Homo sapiens: one gene and its partners. The protein of the gene in region 1 interacts with the protein of each later gene in a biochemical or structural test. Each region holds a gene or a part of one and is shown in the gene's direction. Other genes may lie near its edges.

The links. Proteins that work in one complex are often made in the same cells at the same time.
Region 2: the proteins of SPTAN1 (region 1) and TES form a complex in vitro, tested with the Homo sapiens proteins (one study listed by BioGRID).
Region 3: the proteins of SPTAN1 (region 1) and EPB41 form a complex in vitro, tested with the Homo sapiens proteins (one study listed by BioGRID).

Annotation. Positions count from the first base shown.
Region 1 is NC_000009.12:128,548,135-128,555,612, forward strand, and holds the start of SPTAN1 (spectrin alpha chain, non-erythrocytic 1), read left to right. Parts: upstream 1-4,452; 5' UTR 4,453-4,562; exon of another isoform or gene 4,563-5,177; intron 5,178-7,214; exon of another isoform or gene 7,215-7,232; coding exon of another isoform or gene 7,233-7,265; intron 7,266-7,478. UniProt on the Homo sapiens protein: Fodrin, which seems to be involved in secretion, interacts with calmodulin in a calcium-dependent manner and is thus candidate for the calcium-dependent movement of the cytoskeleton at the membrane.
Region 2 is NC_000007.14:116,255,524-116,259,308, forward strand, and holds the end of TES (testin), read left to right. Parts: exon of another isoform or gene 1-1,770; coding exon 1,771-1,959; 3' UTR 1,960-3,260; downstream 3,261-3,785. UniProt on the Homo sapiens protein: Scaffold protein that may play a role in cell adhesion, cell spreading and in the reorganization of the actin cytoskeleton. Plays a role in the regulation of cell proliferation. May act as a tumor suppressor. Inhibits tumor cell growth.
Region 3 is NC_000001.11:28,909,990-28,917,593, forward strand, and holds the start of EPB41 (protein 4.1), read left to right. Parts: upstream 1-4,579; 5' UTR 4,580-4,779; intron 4,780-7,604. UniProt on the Homo sapiens protein: Protein 4.1 is a major structural element of the erythrocyte membrane skeleton. It plays a key role in regulating membrane physical properties of mechanical stability and deformability by stabilizing spectrin-actin interaction. Recruits DLG1 to membranes.

The DNA of each region.
Region 1 (7,478 bases):
TCATGAATATAGTCTTGAATTTATGAATCGTAATTAATCATTTTTCACTTGGTGACTAGGTTATGCCTAATATATTTTTTTAAATTATTAACATTCTTTTTTTTTTTTTTTTTTTTTTTGAGACAAGGTCTCACTCTATTGCCTGAGCTGGAATGCAGTAGCACAGTCATGGCTCACTGCAGCCTTGACCTCCCGCGCTTAGGTGATCCTCCCACAGCCTCCTGAGTAGCTGGGACTACAGGCGCAAGCCACCACATCTGGCTAATTTTTGCATTTTTTTGTAGAGATGGGGTTTTGCCATGGTGCCCGGGCTGGTCTTAAACTCCTGGGCTCAAGTGATCTGCCTGCCTCAGCCTCCTAAAGTGCTGGGATTGCAGGTGTGAGCCACCACGCCCGTCCTGAATGAAAATGCATCTTGTCCTGCTTAAGGCAGATTTCTAGATGTAACTAACATTGCTGGGTCAAATGGCATGCAAATTTTATATTTTGATCCACATTGCCAACTGCTCTTCCAGAAAGGTTCTACTTACATATACTCAAAATGGGTAAGATTTTCAGGCAGAAAGGAGGCATGAGTGTTGGGAAAGGATGTTCTAATTGGAGGAAAAAATTGTTCACAAAAGCATGGAGTTGGAGAAATAACATGTTTTGGAAAGAGGCTAACCTCAGACCAGTAGAGCAGAACTGTAGGGAATGATGCTGTGAAAAGGTAAATTGGAACAAGATTGTGGAGGCTGCAAATTTCGGCCTATTCCGTAGGCAATGGGAAACAACTGAAACTTGTTGAGAAGGTTTGACGTGATTTGTGAAACTAACTGTAGTAGTGGGTTCAAGGTAAGCAGGAGGGACACGGACTGACCAGGCCTAGCAGGCAGCCCTGCAAGGGAACAGATGTGAAATGACCGGAGCCAGATTACAAGGTCGGATTAGGGGAGGGGAGGGAGGAGTTTACATCTCTGCTGTCACCTGGAGTCTTAAAACCCTGGTAAGGCCACACTCCCAGAGCCTATCAGGCTGCTTCTCTAATGTGGTGCTTGATTTTAGAAGCAGGGGCTTGTGTTTTGCTTTGTCTTTTGATTGTAGTAAAATATATAGAACATAAAAAGTTTAACCTTTTTTTTTTTTTTGAGACGGAGTCTCAATCTGTCGCCCAGTCTGGAGTGCAATGGCGCGATCTTGGCTCACTGCAACCTCCGCCTCCCGGGTTCAAGCGACTCTCCTGCCTCAGCCTCCCGAGTAGCTGGGATTACAGGTGTGCACCACCACACCCGATTAATTTTTGTATTTTTAGTAGAGGCAGGGTTTCACCATGTTGGCCAGGATGGTCTCAAGCTCCTGACCGCAAGTGATCCGCCCGCCTCAGCCTCCCAAAGTGCTGGGATTACAGGCGTGAGCCACCAAGCCCTGCCTAACCATTTGTAAGTGTACAGTTCTGTGGCATTATGTACAGTCACAGTGTTGTGCAACCATCACCACCATCCTCTCCAGAACTCTCTTTCACCATCCCAGACGGAAACTTTCCCACTAAACAATAATAACCCATTCCTCCCTCCCCTCAGACCCTGGTAACAACAGTTTTTTCTGTCTCTATGAATCTGACAATTTTAGGGATCTCATATAAGTGGAATGGTCATACAGTATTCATCCTTATGTGTCTGGCGTATTTCACTTAGCATAAAGCCTTCAAGGTTCATCCAGGCACTGTGATTTGAAGAGCTGTGTTATTTCTTGCCAGCTCTGACACTGCAGAATGTCATATGGGAAGTGCAGTCCACTTGCCAGCATGACTCTTCCCAATCAGCTCCCTTCTAGGGAAGAAAAATAGTGGAAGTGCTTGCCTGTTATCTTTGCAGGGGGTGAGACAGGGTGTGGAGGGGAGGGGAGGGGAAGGGGTCTCTCCCAGGGAGAGTGGGCAAGTGACTTTCCCTGGCTGGAACATATGGACACATCACCACAATTAGTGTGTTTTCCAACAGTTGACCTTTTCAACAACCTGAAAAAGTATTGGGACTATCTAGACGCTTAAGCTTAGGGTGCCTATCAAACCTTCTGAGGATTGCTGAAACTAGAAAAAGGAGTTGAGAATTCAGTCCAACCCTCTGCTTTTTAGGAGGCCAGGAGAGGTGTGACTGAGAACATGGAGTTGATTGGTTACAAAGTCGTTACACTGTCCTGTGCTTTTTCTGTTGTTGTTTTTTCCCCCAGCTTTCCACACCTACTAGGGTGTTAGGCATATGGTGAAACTGGTGGGAGGTGAGGTAGGCAGACAACAGAACAGTGAAGAATGGCTGGTTTCAAGTGCCAAGTGCAGAGAAGGCAGGGTGAGTGGGTGGGAGGTGGAGAGCGCTGGGGATACTGTTTCTTGGTCATGTCTCAGATCACACAAAGAATCAAATAAGATTTTAGTTTCTCTATCAATACAGAGCTCTCTCTTAGGTCTCCATTTTGCATCCAGCAAAAGCAGCAGAACCCCCAGTTCACTATGGGGCCAGGGTGATTTAATAGAAAAACCCTCCCTTTTGAACAGCTCCTGCCCCTCAGTCCCAAGGTGCTTTCTTTGCTGGAGCAGAAGGTCTTGGAAATTTTAGGGAGCTACAATTGTGTTAGCCATTTTGTACCCAGAGCTGAATATCTGATCAAACATTTTACTGCAACCTGCTGGAGAAGAGGCCACGGATACCATCAGCTGTTCTCAGAAATGCACACTCCAGGGAGGAGTTGCTCAGCGCTGTTTTCTCTACATAGAAGATTGCAGGAAATGCCTCTCAGCTCCTACGTTTCTCCTACACAGATTCTCTAAAGCAGCTTCTGGGGTGTGGTCACTGCTTTTCTCTCCACTCCAATGGAGTGAGTGGGTAGGGAAATTTTTCCTCAGTATCATGGCTACAGCCAGGACAGCTTAGAAACCGTATTGCAGGTCCCAGGCACGGGGAAAGAAGCCAAACTGCAGAGGGCCAGGAAGCTCAGGGCCAGGTCTGGGCCCAGATTCTGGTGCAGTGTCCAATGACTTTATATTTATTTAAAGAGGAGAGCTGCTTGGTAACCAGGAGGCTGAAGCCTTCCTAAGCTGCAGAGCTCCCCGTCTGCCTGACTGCACAGGAATGATCTGGGTGTTACTCCCAGTGGCTGCGGCCCAGCTGTCACCGGAATGGGGATAGGGAAAGGGCTTCCTAATCCAGGGCTTCTGGCTACAGAGTTTAGAGCCAGGACCTTAAACTGCTAGGACTTTAAGTATCAGAAATTCTGAGAATCTTATTTTTCTCTTTCTGCACCCCAGCAGCCACCCGCATCAAAATGCCTCCCTTTCCTATTTGAAGGCAATACACATACGGTTGCAAAGGGAAGGTTCTGACTGCTGAGATGTAAATCCTAGCTCTTCCAATTGGTAGCTGCCTGACCTGGGCCAAGAGACTTAGCCTACATGAGCATTATGTAAGAGTGCCCATTTGTAAAATGGGAAAACATCTCATAAAATTATTGCAAAGATTAAGAAATGAAAAGGTAACACGAAATACTTAGCATAGTGCCTAGTACACAAGGCAAGTTCGATTAATTGTGCCAGAAAGAACCTTAATGTCTTGTTTATGAAATAGGATGAATGTAGCCTATTCCACTGGCGACCTGTGAGAAAGCTTTTGTTGCAGGAATGTAAGAAATTATTATTTTGCCGCTGCCGTTTCCTCCCCCATAATCTCCAAGAACATAAGAAATTAACTCTCCAAATCCCAGAATGACAGCTTTATGCCCCAAATTAGTCGACTTAATTTTTTTTCTGATTCGGATTTGGCCTTTTCCTCTCACCACCTCCTCAAACCCGGGGCCCCAAATCATCCGCGTCTTCTTGACCCCAGCCCCCACCGAATTAGGCTGACTTGGGACCCCAGCGCCAGCCTCCTCCTCGGGAAAGTGAGCAGGAAGAGACGCACTCGGGTGATCTCACCCTTTGGGACTGGGCGTTTTTCCGGCCGGGGCGCGCAGCATCCCCAGCCAGACTGCAGCGATACCCCCGCCCCGCCCTTCTCCGCAGTCCTGGAAGAGCTCCCAGGGCGGAGTGGTGCGATGCAGACGACTGTCCGCAGGGCGGGCGGTGGCGGGGCGCAAGCTGCGGGGAGGGAGGTGAGGCGGGAGCGTCTCTACCGCCAGGGCGTAGGCAGTGACCTCACTGCACCATCACCCCTCACCCCTTGCGCGCGCCCCATTTCCCCATCCTCCCGCGGCCCGCCCCTCGCTCACCTCTTCCCCCGCATTGTCGCTTCGGCTCCTTCCGGGATCGCTCGGCCCTTTCCGCCGGGCGGTCGGGCGGCGAGCCGGCGGGAGCACCGCCCCCTTTGCTCCGCCGGCGCGCTCCCCCACCCCTCGCGCAGCGCCGGGGCGCTTCCCCCGGCGCTCGCGCCCGCCCGCCGCGGGAGCGCGCGTAGCCGCTTATAAAAGAGGCGGGGCGCGCGCGTCGCCGCCACTACCCGCTGCGGAGTGAACGGTGTGGAGCGGAGGCCGCGGAGGCTCCTCGGTCCTTCAGCACCCCTCGGCCCGACGCACCCACGCCCCTCACCCCCCGAGAGCCGGTGAGAGGGGCAGCCGGGGAGCTCCGGGAGGGAGCGGGGCCCCGGGCAGCCGACCCCCGGGTGGGAGCTGGGCAGCTCTTCAGGCGGGGCGGGGCCGGCGCGCGGACAGGTGAGCCGGGCGGGCCGCGGGGCTGCCTCCATTCGGCTGAGTGGGGGAAGCCGCTGCCGCTGCTTTTGTGGCGCGTGGGCTGCGGAGGAGCAGCCGGGCCGAGGCTCGGCGCCGCCGCTGGAATGTCACTGACGGGGGGAGGGGGCGCGAGGCCGCCGGGTCCCTCCCAACCACCCCCAAGCCTGGCTGCGGCGCGGCCCTGCCCTGCCCCATCCGGCTGCGGCAGGTGGGTGGGGGCTCCCTCGTCGGGATCTTCGCCAGCCGCCTCCCTGCAGAACGCTCCCCGCACCGCCCCCGGTCCCTTCCCTCGGCCGGGAGCGACTTCTGCAGCTCGTTCTTCCGAATCGCACCAGCAATGCCGGCCAGCCGTAGAGGGAGGAAGAGCCCGGGGAGCCCGAGCATAGCGTAAACGGCTCTCTGACCTTAATTTCATCCTGCATGGCGAATCTCTGCCGTCTCTCTGAACGCAGAAGGGTCTGAGACTGGCCGTCTCCTTTTCTTTCCTTGTAATAAACATTTTTCTTTCTTCCTAGTTGTGATTTGCTTGTAAATAATAGGTAAATGCAGTGCTTGCATGGTATGTGGCTCAAATCAAATAACTTAATAGCTTAGCGTTCTTGTTTGTGTGTGTGTTTCCTGGGACTGGGTCTTTCGAGTCGAGATACAGTGTCAAAAATTCTACCATACCACTGTTGAATGATAGAACAGTCTTTTGTTTGAAAGCTGTCCCTGAGAATTTGATTAGACGCTTCCCCTAGAACATCGCTTTCAAAAGTCTCTGATGTACTAGAGTAAAATATATTTTAAATAAGCGCCTTGTTAAAAGTTGAATATGTTTTAAATGAAAAGCCTAAATAGCTCAGAAAGCTGGGTTGAGATGATGCTTGAACTGTTCCAACATCTAATCAGATCTCTTTTATATAATAGATCCTAAAATATTTAAGCCCTTTGTTCTGTCTTCATCATGTTATTTTAGAAAAACTTACCATCATGGCTGTTCGGGAAGAACAGGAGAGAGGCCATATGAAGTATTTTCATAATGTGTTGAGAAATTGCGTCGTCATAGCAATTGGCCTTAAGTAAAACAGAATGTATCAAAGATGGAAGGGTGGGGGTGTCTTGGAGCCAGGAAACAGAAAATCTTGGAAATAGCAGGAGGAACACTCAGCTATATGAAGCCATTGAGTCAAGGTTCCGACTCCTTAACTAGTCGTTTATTTTCCCTTTCATTGCAGCTAACTAATGTCTTAGATTTTGAAAGGTCAAATTGAATGTGCTGCGGAGGAAAAAAAAAGTGCTGCAGTAAAGGCCTCTGTGCAGGAAATTAACAATAAGCCTTTTTTAGTAACTGGGCCAATAATTACTCAAAGGGACCCTCAAAGTGTGTTAACTGTTATCCAGGGACCTTGATGGAGAGACTGGAAAGGAGGATTTTTGCTTCATCCTGGACAAGTGTGAAGCAGTTCTTATGGCAAACCATCAGCCTAGTAACTGATTCTCTGATATGCTTTGGTCTTGGCAGTGTGTTTTGTAGTCATCTAATAATTGGAGAAATCTGGTATGTCACAGGCTGCAGTGTAAGCCTGTCAAGCAATATGATGAAGAGGTGCACATGGGGAGAGCTGTTTTAAGTATGTCTTTTGGTTCCCTGGGTTAGAATTTTTTCTGCTTTTTCTTACCTGCCTTCATCCAAAGTTGGGGGTCAACTGCAGATCCTGAAAAGTGGATCTCAGGAATAGTCCCCCATGTCCTGTCACTGCTGAATCTACACTAAGAATGGACAAGTGTGTTCAAGGCTGGCCTGCCTTTGTAATCAGTCCTCCGTGGGCTATGCAGGGATCCCACTAGTTACGCACTCATCTGTTGCAGCATATCAGCTGCGGCTGTACTGTAGAAGAATGCAACGCCCTAGTGGCAAATGCTGACTCCAGGAATGCGGAGGAGGAGGAGGACTGCATAGCTCATCACTGGGGGCCACTTGACTGGAGCAGCTGTGCTGCAAACCATCACCTCTCTTCCACCTTTTTTGCATATTCCTCTTGTACCAATTTTGAACAGGAAATAGTATTTTGTAAAGTAAGTGTACTGGCAAACTAGGCCCAAGTCAGATCTTTGTGGCTTGAGTTCTACTTTGTGGCAATTTCATGAAGTCATGCTCTTTTATTGCTGAATGGAAGGGGATTTAGGAATCATCTTGTCCTGGGATCCTCAGGAGGAAGGCATGTTTAGTTTGAAAAAGTATATTCGGTATTATTACTTTAACAAGTGGGGAAATTGAGGCCCCAAGGAGAATGAGACTTGACCAGGGCAGCATATCTAGAAAGTAACTGCCAAGACCTGGGAACCTTGGTTCTCCTTCCACATTTTAAATCCCTTGTGGGATTTAGACGCTATACAGAATGTCAGAGAGAAGACACTGAAAAAATATCTGAAATTGGATTTTTAATCTGTATTCATATTTTTTAAATAATCTGTTTTCTTCATGATTTTGTTCCGTTTGCCCTTAGAAGCTTGTTATCTTGCTCTTCCCCCTCCCTCTTTAGACTCCACATTCCTCCATCATGTTGTCATCGTTTCGTAAACGCAGAGTCCAGGTATTTGACGAGCATGCAGAAAACGGGTTGCCTTTTTGGTTTTGCCTGGCTTGCAGTGAAGGCATATTCGTGTCAAAGAGGTTGAATGATCCAAAGAAAGGGGGAAAAAAACCCTGCCTGCATGACGTTTCTGTTAAACAAATTGGTTAGGATTTGTTTGGGGTTTTTTGGTGTTAAATTATCAGAAGTATTAGTAAATTTACTTGAAAATTT
Region 2 (3,785 bases), on another chromosome or scaffold:
ACCATTTATGTGTACTAATTATCTTTTTGCTTAATTTTCTTAATTTCATGTGTAATTGAACATTAGTTATCTCTTTTTTGTAAATTGCAACTGAAAATGTGTGTTTTGGGTAATTTTAAAAAATCACAGGTCTGAGAAAAAGAAGATAGATCATGGTCTGAAAGCAAGGGAATAAAACACACGGTGTATTTTACAAGAACACATTCAAAATACATAAACAAGAAATATTGAAAGACTGTTCTTATCACAAGGAAATCATAAATGTTTAAGGAGAGGGATATCCTAATTACCCTGATTTGATCACTACACTATGTATACATGTATTGAAACATCACATAGTACACCCATAAATATGTACAATTATGTGTTGATCATAAATTTTAAAATGGAAAGATTAATATGAAATGCAGAAAATAAGACATTCTAAATGCATAATAAAGCTATAAAAATATATACAAAAAGCAGTTGCTTGCATGGTGCAGCTGCACATTAGAAATGTGCTTGTAATTGAAACGTTCATTTTTATAGTATTCAGGAATAGTGTGTTGATCAAAGAATTTTCATTGTATCTCAGGGAAGACTGGGTTGACCTAACTTATAGATTACAGAGCTATAATCTCTGTAATCAGAAGCAATGTAACAAAAATATGCAGGTCTGAAATGGACATATATAACCAGGCCTCACTTCACTGCCTAAACCAATTACCCAGTGAGTAGCAGCCACATTTTGAAGTCTTTTCAAGTAAGGAGGCTCAAGCTGAATGACCTCCACTCACCTGTTCCCACCCCTTATCCCTCAGTAATTCCTGACAATCACATTACGAGACCAAGGGTGCTTAAGATTAGTCACTGTGATACCAGACAGTCTTGCTGGCTTCTTCACTTGTTATGAAATATTTAAAACAAAAACTTTAAGACAGCCATATTCATTCAGAACATGTATAAACTATAAGGCATGGACTATCCAGTGTTTCAGAGGTCCGAACTGGTTTTCTGTTTTCTGCTATAACATAGGTTATTTATTCATTTTCCTCATGTGCATGTTTGAATAAGAAGAAAATTTTGTGGTGTAAATGTATGTATGTTTGTGTATGTATATACATGTTTGTATGTCATGTATATATACATAACACATACTGAATGGTACAGGGATTGTAAGTATTAATGTTCTACAATATTAGATTACACATAAATTATGACTGATCTTATGACAGAATAGAAGCCAATTAACTACAAGTTATATTTTTAGTGCAAATTCATTTTTCTCAAACACTGTCAGTATTTTTAATTGAGTCCTTAATTACTTTGAACATGATTTTAATTTACTACTGTCTAGAAATTAGTGGTGTTAATAATCTCATGTGTCATAGGTAAGACAGGTAAAATTACCACTTCAAAGCTTTAATGAACAAGGAAAAATCATAAACTTCTGTGTAATTACAAATGTGCAATCTAATAAAATACATCAGAACTAAGCACACTGCTTTGGAACTTCCCATCAAGACTTTCTGCCTTGAATGCCATGAAGTTATCTTACATGCATCAAATCACCTGTTTGGCCTTCACTCGTTATTTCTCAGGCTGCTCAGAATATTGACCTCCATTAACAGTTGGCCAAAAAGGTTAGCTAGAAGGCCACCCTCCATTGTGTATTTCTGAGGTTGTCATTATGAGTTTTAATTTATCATCTAAAGAAATATGTCCTAAGATGAAAATGTTACCATTACAGCTTGATCTCTCACCCTCTTCTCTTGTATTATTTCTTAATAGGTGTGTCAAGGATGCCACAATGCCATCGACCCAGAAGTGCAGCGGGTGACCTATAACAATTTCAGCTGGCATGCATCCACAGAGTGCTTTCTGTGCTCTTGCTGCAGCAAATGCCTCATTGGGCAGAAGTTCATGCCAGTAGAAGGGATGGTTTTCTGTTCAGTGGAATGTAAGAAGAGGATGTCTTAGGAGGAGGGCACCCAGAAGTATCGAGCCATAGCTATCCAAAGTGGTCTGCATTTCTACTGTAAAATGCAATTTGAAAAAAATAAAACGCAAAAAAAGAAACTGTAAAGGAAACCAAGAGATTTTGTTTAATTTTTTTGGCCATTTTTTCTTCATCAATTTTTTTTCGGTCTCAACTTTTAAACTTGGTTTAAGCATTTGATTTGTAAAACAGTAAATAATTGTATCTTTCCATAGCTTTTCAAATGTGAAATCATTTTTGGAAGCTTGGATCTCATTAAACTTCATGTCTCTATTCCATTTGTGCCACACACTTAAAAGTTAGTGTACTGAATGGAAAGATGAGCATTCCTAGTTCTACACTTCTTTTTTCCCCCTCATGTGTAAAATGAAAAGAAAACTAAATTTGCCCTAATACCAAGGCGCTACGTTTATTGCCTCGTCTTATTCACTGACCTTTGTAATGATACACAGTGAATTCTTTTTGACAAAGAGAAATGCAGTGTAGTATGCAGAGCTGCTGTTTTAATGCCTATGCATTTACTCTTTCCTGATTTAGGCAGAGGTGGCATTTTCTTTATTGCATTTCTCTATTTTTTTAATGTACCCTACCTTCAGTATTCTCTTTGTAAGTTGGTGACTTGCATCTGTGGCCTTGAATATTTTATTATCACATGTGGCATAACAGTATCCACACTTTTTAGTTCTTTATTTTTTTTTTTTTATTTTGAGCAATTCTCCTGCCTCAGCCTCCCAAATAGCTGGGATTACAGGTGCATGCCACCACACCCAGCTAATTTTTGTATTTTTAGTAGAGACAGGTTTTCACCATGTTAGCCAGGCTGGTCTCAAACTCCTGACCTCAGATGATCCGCCTGCCTTGGCCTCCCAAAGTGCTGGGATTACAGGTGTGGGAGCCACCATGCCTGACCCACACACTTTTTACTTGTATAGATGATTTTTGGCTTGGACATAAAAGCCAAGCCACCCATTTGCTTTTAATCCAAAGAACATGTATAGTTTTTGTACCCAGAGACTATGATTTATATTGATTGCACTTGCCTGCCATGATTTAGATAAGATTTTTTTTGCATGGTTTTTATTCTTTCCTAATGGATCCTGTTTTATAATACTTCCAAGCCTGTCCATGGATATATCAAATGTCTTCACTTGTATATTTTCATGGCTAGGTATTTCTAATGTTTATTCTTCCCTGTGTACTTCTACACATAGCTATGCACTATGAAAATTAAATGGAATGAATGATATGTATATTACTCAAAATAAAGTTTCTTTCACTTTAATAATCATTGTATCTTTTTATTCATATCCTTTTTTGAGTGAAAAATGCTTCTGCAACTAAGCATGTGTTACAGCAGGGGGCGATGTCTCCAAGGATAAAAATTACCCAAACGAAAATAAAAGTCTGCCTCTGACAGGACAGCACAGAATCTAGATGTTTCATTATGGAGAAAAGATAAGGTTTATGAAACTTTCAAATCAGGACTTTTAAGTTTGGTCATGCAAGAGTTTTTTTCTTTTTCAAAGAAAGGGAAAGTAATTTTAATTAAAATTTGGGAGAGCTTATTTTCTATTCAGTTGGATCTAACAAGCCTTTTATACTTGGGTTTCAACTCTGGTTTCTTTATATGTAAAAAATATTAAAAGAAGAATTTTTTCATGGAAACTTATCGTGAGACAGAAAGCAAATGGGGAATAGTGGTAGACTCATGCTTCCTAATGTTAGCAGGCCATAATACTTTCTCCCTCAGTCTACAATTATTTCTGTCATAGTGGGAGTTGCAGTTTTCTCTGATACATACCCAGAA
Region 3 (7,604 bases), on another chromosome or scaffold:
GAGGATCACATCACTTGAGCCCAGGAGGTCGAGGCTGCAGTGAGCTGTGGTCATGCTACTGTACACCAGCCTGGGTAACAGAGTGAGACCACTGTCTCAAAAAAAAAAAAAAGTGTACGTATAAGAAAAGGTACTAGAAGGGAAGGTCCCAAAATATTGATGGTAGTTATTTTTGACTGGTGGCTTTATAGTGACTTACATTTTTTCTTGTGTTTCTAAATTTTCTATGAACAATTCAAGTACTACTAGTAAAATTAATCCCCATCCCACTGTATGAATGGTAATTCCCATCCCATTATAGCCTGTTTGATTTATCATTTGTGTTTACAAGTCTAAAATAACTGTGATTTTTTATCCTGCCATAGGCAGGATGGCAAGCACTACTCTTCATATACTTTTGGTACCAGCATCAGTTTTCATTCAACAGTACTGTTCAGAACACTTTGTTGGTGGGCCCAGCTTTTCAAAGCCCTCTTCAATCTCTTGCCACCCTCCACAACAGACACAGGGCTTCAGGCCAGCTGTGTCCCTAATCCGCCCACGTCCCAGATTTGGGTATGGTTTCCCCGCCCCTCCCCGCTTTCTTCCAGTCTCATCTCTACCAGGTCATCTGAGGCCTCATCTACACTCCCTGGCCTTCCCCACTGGTCACCACCTAATTTCACCATCTAATTTCACCCTCTTATGTGCAGCTGGTGTTTGCTTTTGCTTGGGCTCAGTTTGCTGTGGGGAAGGATTAAGACCCTTTCACACTGTCTTTTTTTTTCTTTTTCTCTTTTGCTTACTGCCCTTGACTGCTCCAGGGGCTAACAGGCAGCTAGCGGGGCCTGTATTCCCTAGGAAGGAACACAAGGGGTAGGGGGTGGGGAGGTAATGGTGGGCTCAGCTGGCAGGCGAGATAGAGATGGTCCTTAGGGACCCCATCCTGGGGCTTGGGGCATAGCACAGCTGCCACCCAGATGTGAGCATGGAGCAGAGCTGTTTCTGCCTTGGAAATTAGCCTCAGAGACGGTGCTTGGGACCTTTACCCTTGGTACCTGATGGCAGTCTCTGCAGGGTGAGCTGGGACTGGATACCTGGTTTGCAGAAGTCTGAGAGGGCAGATGGGCCCAGGAGTAAAGGTAGTTTTTCCACCTTCATATTAGGCATTACTTATACCCCCACATCTTCCTATGTGATAGGCCTGGCAACACTCAGAGATTGGGCACTTAGCCTAACAACTGAAGATGTGTGTCTAAAATAACAAAAATTCCTCATGTGTGGATAGTACTTTACAGTTTACAAAGCCCTTTCATCTCCAGGCTAAGAATTAAAAGCCAGCACTGGAATTCAGGTCTTTCAGATTCTAAAGCCTGAGTCAATGGATTATGGTGTGTTATTGCATGGCACTCTGAATTTCAGAGTAGTTCATACCTGCCTTGTGTCTAGCCTTTTGCTGTTAGCCTGAGACCTCTACTTATTTGCAGAGTAAGGATTATTAAATGCTACATATTCTTTGCATCCAATTAGATGTGCCATTGGCTAGCACTTCATGGCATAGAGAATACTGGGCTTTCATGAATCTGAATTTGCTGGATAACTTGGTGGTGGTGGAGATGGTAAACCACTGGTAATTGGTCTTCTATACTCATCCTTCAAGGTACCAGATTTTCCTGTCTGATTGGTGAAGGAAGCCTGAGGCACAGAGGTGGTAGGACTAGAACTCTGAATAAAAAGCACAGCTGAACCTGAGGACTTGAGGCAGGAGACCAGAGTATTTAAGAACAGGTGTGGCCAGGCATGGTGGCTCATGCCTGTAATCCCAGCACTTTGGGATGCTGAGGTGGGTGGATCACCTGAGGCTGGGGGTTCGAGACCAGCCTGACCAACATGGAGAAACCCCATCTCTATTAACAATACAAAATTAGCCAGGCGTGGTGCACATGCCTGTAATCCCAGCTACTCACGAGGCTGAGGCAGGAGAATCGCTTGAACCTGGGAGGCAGAGGTTGCAGTGAGGTGAGGCGAGATCGTGCCATTGCACTCCAGCCTGGGCAAAAAGAGCGAAACCCCTTCTCAAAAAAAAACAGGTGCTTCACCCCTCATACACAGAATGACCCTGGCCAAGTCACCTGACCTCACTAAGACTCAGTTTCCTTATATGTAAAATGAGGATGTTCATTAACTCATTCAACAAATATTTATTGAGCGTATACTGTTCTGGGAGATGAATACAGATACAGTCCCTGCCTTCCTGAGCTTGCAGTCTAGTGGGTCTAGATTACAGCAATTTATTTGAGAGGCACAATAAATAATAAATATATAGTAGAAAGTCAAGTAGGGTAAGTGCTATGAAGCAAATTAAAGCAGGATAAGGGTGTTTGAGTGGAGGGTGTTTTAGATGGTATAGTCAGGTGGTTTTCAAGGGGTTTTATGATGTTTCAAATGGACAATTTACATAACGTGCTCAGCTCAGTGCTAACAACAATTGCATGCTTAACAAATATATTATTATATTTGCCAGTTCCACACCTCTCAGTCCACATTTTAGTCTCTGAATAGTAATAATAATTAACACACATAGATCTTACTATGAGCTAGGCACTGCTCTAAGTCCTTTACATATTTTAACTCATTTAATTCTGTTTTCCTTTTTCTTTTTTTTGAGATGGAGTCTTGCTCTTGTCACCCAACCTGGAGTTCAATGGCATGATCTCGGCTCTCTGCAACCTCCACCTCCTGGGTTCAAGTGATTCTCCTGCCTCAACCTCCGAGAATAACTGAGATTACAGGTGCCTGCCACCAGGCCCAGCTAAGTTTTGTATTTTTAGTAGAGATGGGGTTTCACCATTTGGCCAGGCTGGTCTCGAACTCCTGACCTCAGGTGATCCGCCTGCCTCAGCCTCCCAAAGTTCTGGGATTACAGGCATGAGCCACCATGCCTGGCCTAATTCTTACAGTAACTCTGTGAGGTGGGAACTATTATTATCCTTCTCCCTCCCCCAACCCTCGTTTTTGTTTTTAGGGATGGAGTCTTGCTCTGTTGCCCAAGCTGGAGTGGAATGGCATGATCCTAGCTCACTGTGGCCTTGAACTCCTGTGCTTGAGCAATCCTCCCACCTCAGCCTCCCACTATAGGTGGGAGTCCCAGCTACTTGGACATATTATCCCCTTTTATGGTGTTGAAAAATGAGGCACAGCCGGGCGCGGTGGCTCAAGCCTGTAATCCCAGCACTTTGGGAGGCCGAGAAGGGCGGATCACGAGGTCAGGAGATCGAGACTAACACGGTGAAACCCCGTCTCTACTAAAAATACAAAAATTAGCTGGGCGTGGTGGTACACGCCTGTAGTCCCAGCTACTCGGGAGGCTGAGGCAGGAGAATCGCTTGAACCCGGGAGGCAGAGGTTGCAGTGAGCCGAGATTCCGGCACCGCACTCCAGCCTGGTGACAGAGCGAGACTCCGTCTCAAATAAATAAATAAATAAATAAAAGAAAAATGAAAATCAAACCATTAGAAAAGGCTGGAGACTAAGAATTGAACCCAGGCAATCTGTTTCCAGAGGCTGTGCTGGGATCGTGAAGGGGCTGTGATTAGATATCAGGAATGTCTAGCTGGCATCTACAGACTCTGCTGTCAGATGGCCTGGCTTCTTATCCTGTCAGTTTTAAGTCTCTCTGCTTCAGTTTCCTCATCTCTAAAATAGAACACCAGATCCTATCTTACCTTCTAGGTATCATGCTTAAAACAAAAGCCTTCTTTCTGCACTGTGGGTCCGAAGCCTGTTCACAGACCAGCCTAGCAGGGAGTAGGAAGGGTCAAGGGGTCTCTGACACTTCTGGAAGGAAATAAAGACACACTAAGCAATTGTCAGAGCAACCCTCAGTTCATCTGGAGACCAGACCTCGGAAGCTAGGTCTTTATAATGTTGAGATTGCCAGGGGGGAATTAGGAGATCCTTAAATGCAGAAGACAGGTTCAATCTTGGCGTGGTCTCAACACTTAGCTTCCATTTCAGGCCTTACACAGCTGGCACGAGAGGTAAAGTCTCATCGAATGTCAGGGTTGGAAGGGCGCCTAGAGACAGTCAAACTAGTGGATGGGGAAACTGAGGTACAGAGAAGCTGAGTGACTTACCCGAGGTCACTAAGCGTTTAGGGGGAGTCAGTTGGGGTAGCCTGGCTACAACCTCTACGCGAGTTACTTCCCTGAGGCTTCCAAATCTCGGCCTCTTACTTGGAAGGAGGAAAGGGCCTCACCGTCCAGGGCTCTAGCTGCCTCATGCCCCACGTGGGTGCTGCGGGATCCCGGAACACCCCGGCTCCAGACCGGGTTCGACTTGCGCGTGCGCACACGCGGCCAGCCCCTTGCCTTTTCCTCTCTCTTTTTCGTTCCCCTCTCCTCTCCTTACCGGCCTAGGGGAGGGGGGAAACAAGGGGAGCTAGAAGTTGGCCTCAGCCAATGGGCGGACGGGCCGCGGGCCCGGCCCCCTCCTTCCCTCCGGCGCGGCCCAATAGAAATTTACTACAATGTTGTGGCGAACTGAGGGGGAGGGGCGCGGGCCGGCGGGCGGGCTGCGGGCCGGGCTGGCCTCGCCTCGCAGAGGGAAGGCGGGAGGGCGCGCGCCAGGGTCGCTCGCTCGCTCCCTCCCTCCGCTGGTGCGTTTAGTCAGTCAGCCAGCAGCAGCCGGCGGGCCCGCGAGCCGCAGAGGGCCCGAGCCTCGGACGCCGGCGCCTCCTCCTGCCATTGTTCGTCGGGCTGCAGCAGTGGCGGGCGCAGGAGCCCGGCCCCGGAGCCACCGGTGAGGCGAGGCGGCGGCGGCGGCGCGGGAGCCGGGGCGGTGGGCGTGGAGCTGTCCCCGTGGGGACGGTCCTGGCGGCCGCGGCGGCGCTGCAGCCTCTTTGTCTGCAACCCCCGACAGGCCCCGGGCCGGGGCGCGGGCTCTCCCGCGGAGGAGCCTCGTGTGCACGCCGAGTCGCCAGCCGGGACGCGGCCCGAGGAGCGAGGGGCGGGCCAGAGCCGCTGAGGAAAGGGGAAGGGGTTGCGTCGCGGGAGTGTTGGAAAGTTAGGCTTGAGATGTATTTTTGACGGTCCCCTCGGGTGCGTCAATCACGGTGCGGTGTGCAGGAGCCTCGGGAGGAAACCAAATGCGGAGAATCGCAGGTTTCAGACGGTGAAGGTGTTGCGTGCAGCCGCGGAGCGATTTCTTCCTGGCGAGGGAGCTGGGCTGTCTGCAGAAGTCAGGCGGAATCTGAGGACTGCAGGGAGCCCTGGCAAGACTTCGCAGGCCTTCCCGCCACCGACGCCTGCATCATTGAAAAACATGTTCCCCCTTAGTCTTCTGGGTTCCCAGCGAGCAGAGGGTTAAATCTATTCTCTCAGCGTCGTGACCTCCTTTTTCAGTTCGCGCATCTGTCGGCTTGGAAATCTTCCTCCGTGCTCGCTGGGCTGCTGTACCTGTGGAGAGGCCGGGTCTGGGCTCGCCCTCCGAGATTGACCAGCAGGCCATTATTCCTGGGGAGGTTTTGCCAAAACAGGTCATGCTCCCCAAGAACAGGCATTCTCTTGAGAAAAAGTGATCTCACGTGAAACAGATTGCTGATGGACTGGTTTCTGGCCACATGATAGCGACTGTCATCCTGTTGTTTCTTTAACTGTACCCTGTACCCTGCCATAAATGACTAGTCTGTGGAGACTTGTTTTTTGGCATGTAGTTGTTCATTAGGAGATAGTTTTTTCTTTTTCCTTTTTTTTTTTCAGATGCTTTTTTTTTTTTTTTTTTTTGTAGTCTGGGTGATTTCACAGCTGCTATTTTCTTCCCTTCTGTTTTTAGGGAAAATTGCAAGAAATGGTTGTGTCTTGTGTCTTGGATATTATTATAGTGGATTTATACTCTCTTGAGGATGTACTGTAGTCAATGCTGTTGCTCATTGTTGTTTTCTGTATTCTCAGTCCTGGCAAAAATTTTAGTTGGTTTGATCCCTTTAATCAAAAGCAGGATATATAGCCCGTATATGTTTCTTCCCGTCCCAGTTTTGTTAATGTAGCACTAACCCCTACTTTTTATGGAAACTTGATGTACTCTTCATTTTCCTTTTCTGTAAATTGAAAGTGTAATCAGTTCTTCGCCAGTTGTAAAATTTTTGGTTTGGGGTGTTATTAATATAATCCATGTAGCGTACATGCTATCTGGCGTACAGTAAGCACTCAATAAATGGCAGATTCAAAAATAGATGTAATAACTGAACACCAGATTGCCTTAGAATCAAAGTAGTTAATTCAGTGTGCTTTCTATAAGAAGCTTATAATTAAGGTAAATATAGATATTATTCATACACCTGGGGAAACAAGTACAGTATATCTTTGGCACTATTAAAAGTGAACTATGTCGGGCACGGTGGCTCACGCCTGTAATCCCAGCACTTTGGGAGGCCAAGGCGGGTGGATCACTTGAGGTCAGGAGTTCGAGACTAGCCTGGCCAGCATGGTGAAACCCCATCTGTACTAAAAATGCAAAAAAGTAGCTGGGTGTGGTGGCATGTGCCTGTAATCCCACCTACTCAGTAGGTGGAGGCAGGAGAATCGCTTGAACCTAGGAGGCGGAGGTTGCAGTGAGCCGAGATTGCACCACTGCACTTCAACCTGGGCAACAGAGCAAAACTGTCTCAAAAAAAGGTGAACTCATTGTTGAACATAAGTTCAGAATGCCAACCTTCTGATTCCTCTGTCTTCTACCAACAAAACTATACATTTTTCCTTGTATGTTTGAATTCAGGCTTAGAAATAAATGTTTTTAATCTGTAGGTTTTACCAAAATTCTCCCAACAATTTTTTTTTTTTTTAAACAGGGTCTCATTCTGTCACCCAGGCTGGAGTGCAGTGGCATGATCACGGCTCACTGCAGCCTTAAACTCCTGGGCTCAAGTGATCCTCCTGCCTCAGCCTCCCTAGTAGCTGGGACTATAGGCGTGTGCCCCCATGCTTGGCTAATGTCTTTTTATTTTTTGTAGAGACAGTCTCACTATGTTGCCTAGGGTGGTCTTGAATTCCTGGACTCAAGAGATCCTCCTCCCTGGGCCTCCCAAAGTGCTGGGATTACAGATGTGAGCCACCTCACCCGGCCTCTCCCAACATTTATTAAGTGTTTTATACCAAATGTCTTGTAAGTTCTTATGCAATATGGCTACAATCTACCTTTCCACCTTTATTCTCCTTATTTTTTGTATTGTGCAACCAAATAGAACTACTCTGTAATAACCCTTGCTTTGCCATCTCTCTCTCTGTGTGTGTGTGTGTGTGTATGTGTGTGTGTGTATTTATTTATTTATTTTGAGATGGAGTCTTACTCTGTCACACAGGCTGGAGTGCAGTGGCATGATCTCAGCTCACTGCAACCTCCACCTCCTGGATTTAAGCAATTCTCCTGGCTCAGGCTCCCAAGTAGCTGGGATTACAGGCGCTTGCCATCATGCCCACCTAACTTTTGTATTTTTAGTAGAGTTGGGGTTTCACCATGTTGGTCAGTATGGTCTCGATTTCTTGACCTCGTGATCCACCCGCCTCGGCCTTCCAAAGTGCTGGGATTACAGGCATGAGCCACCGTGCCTGGCCCTGTATACATATGTT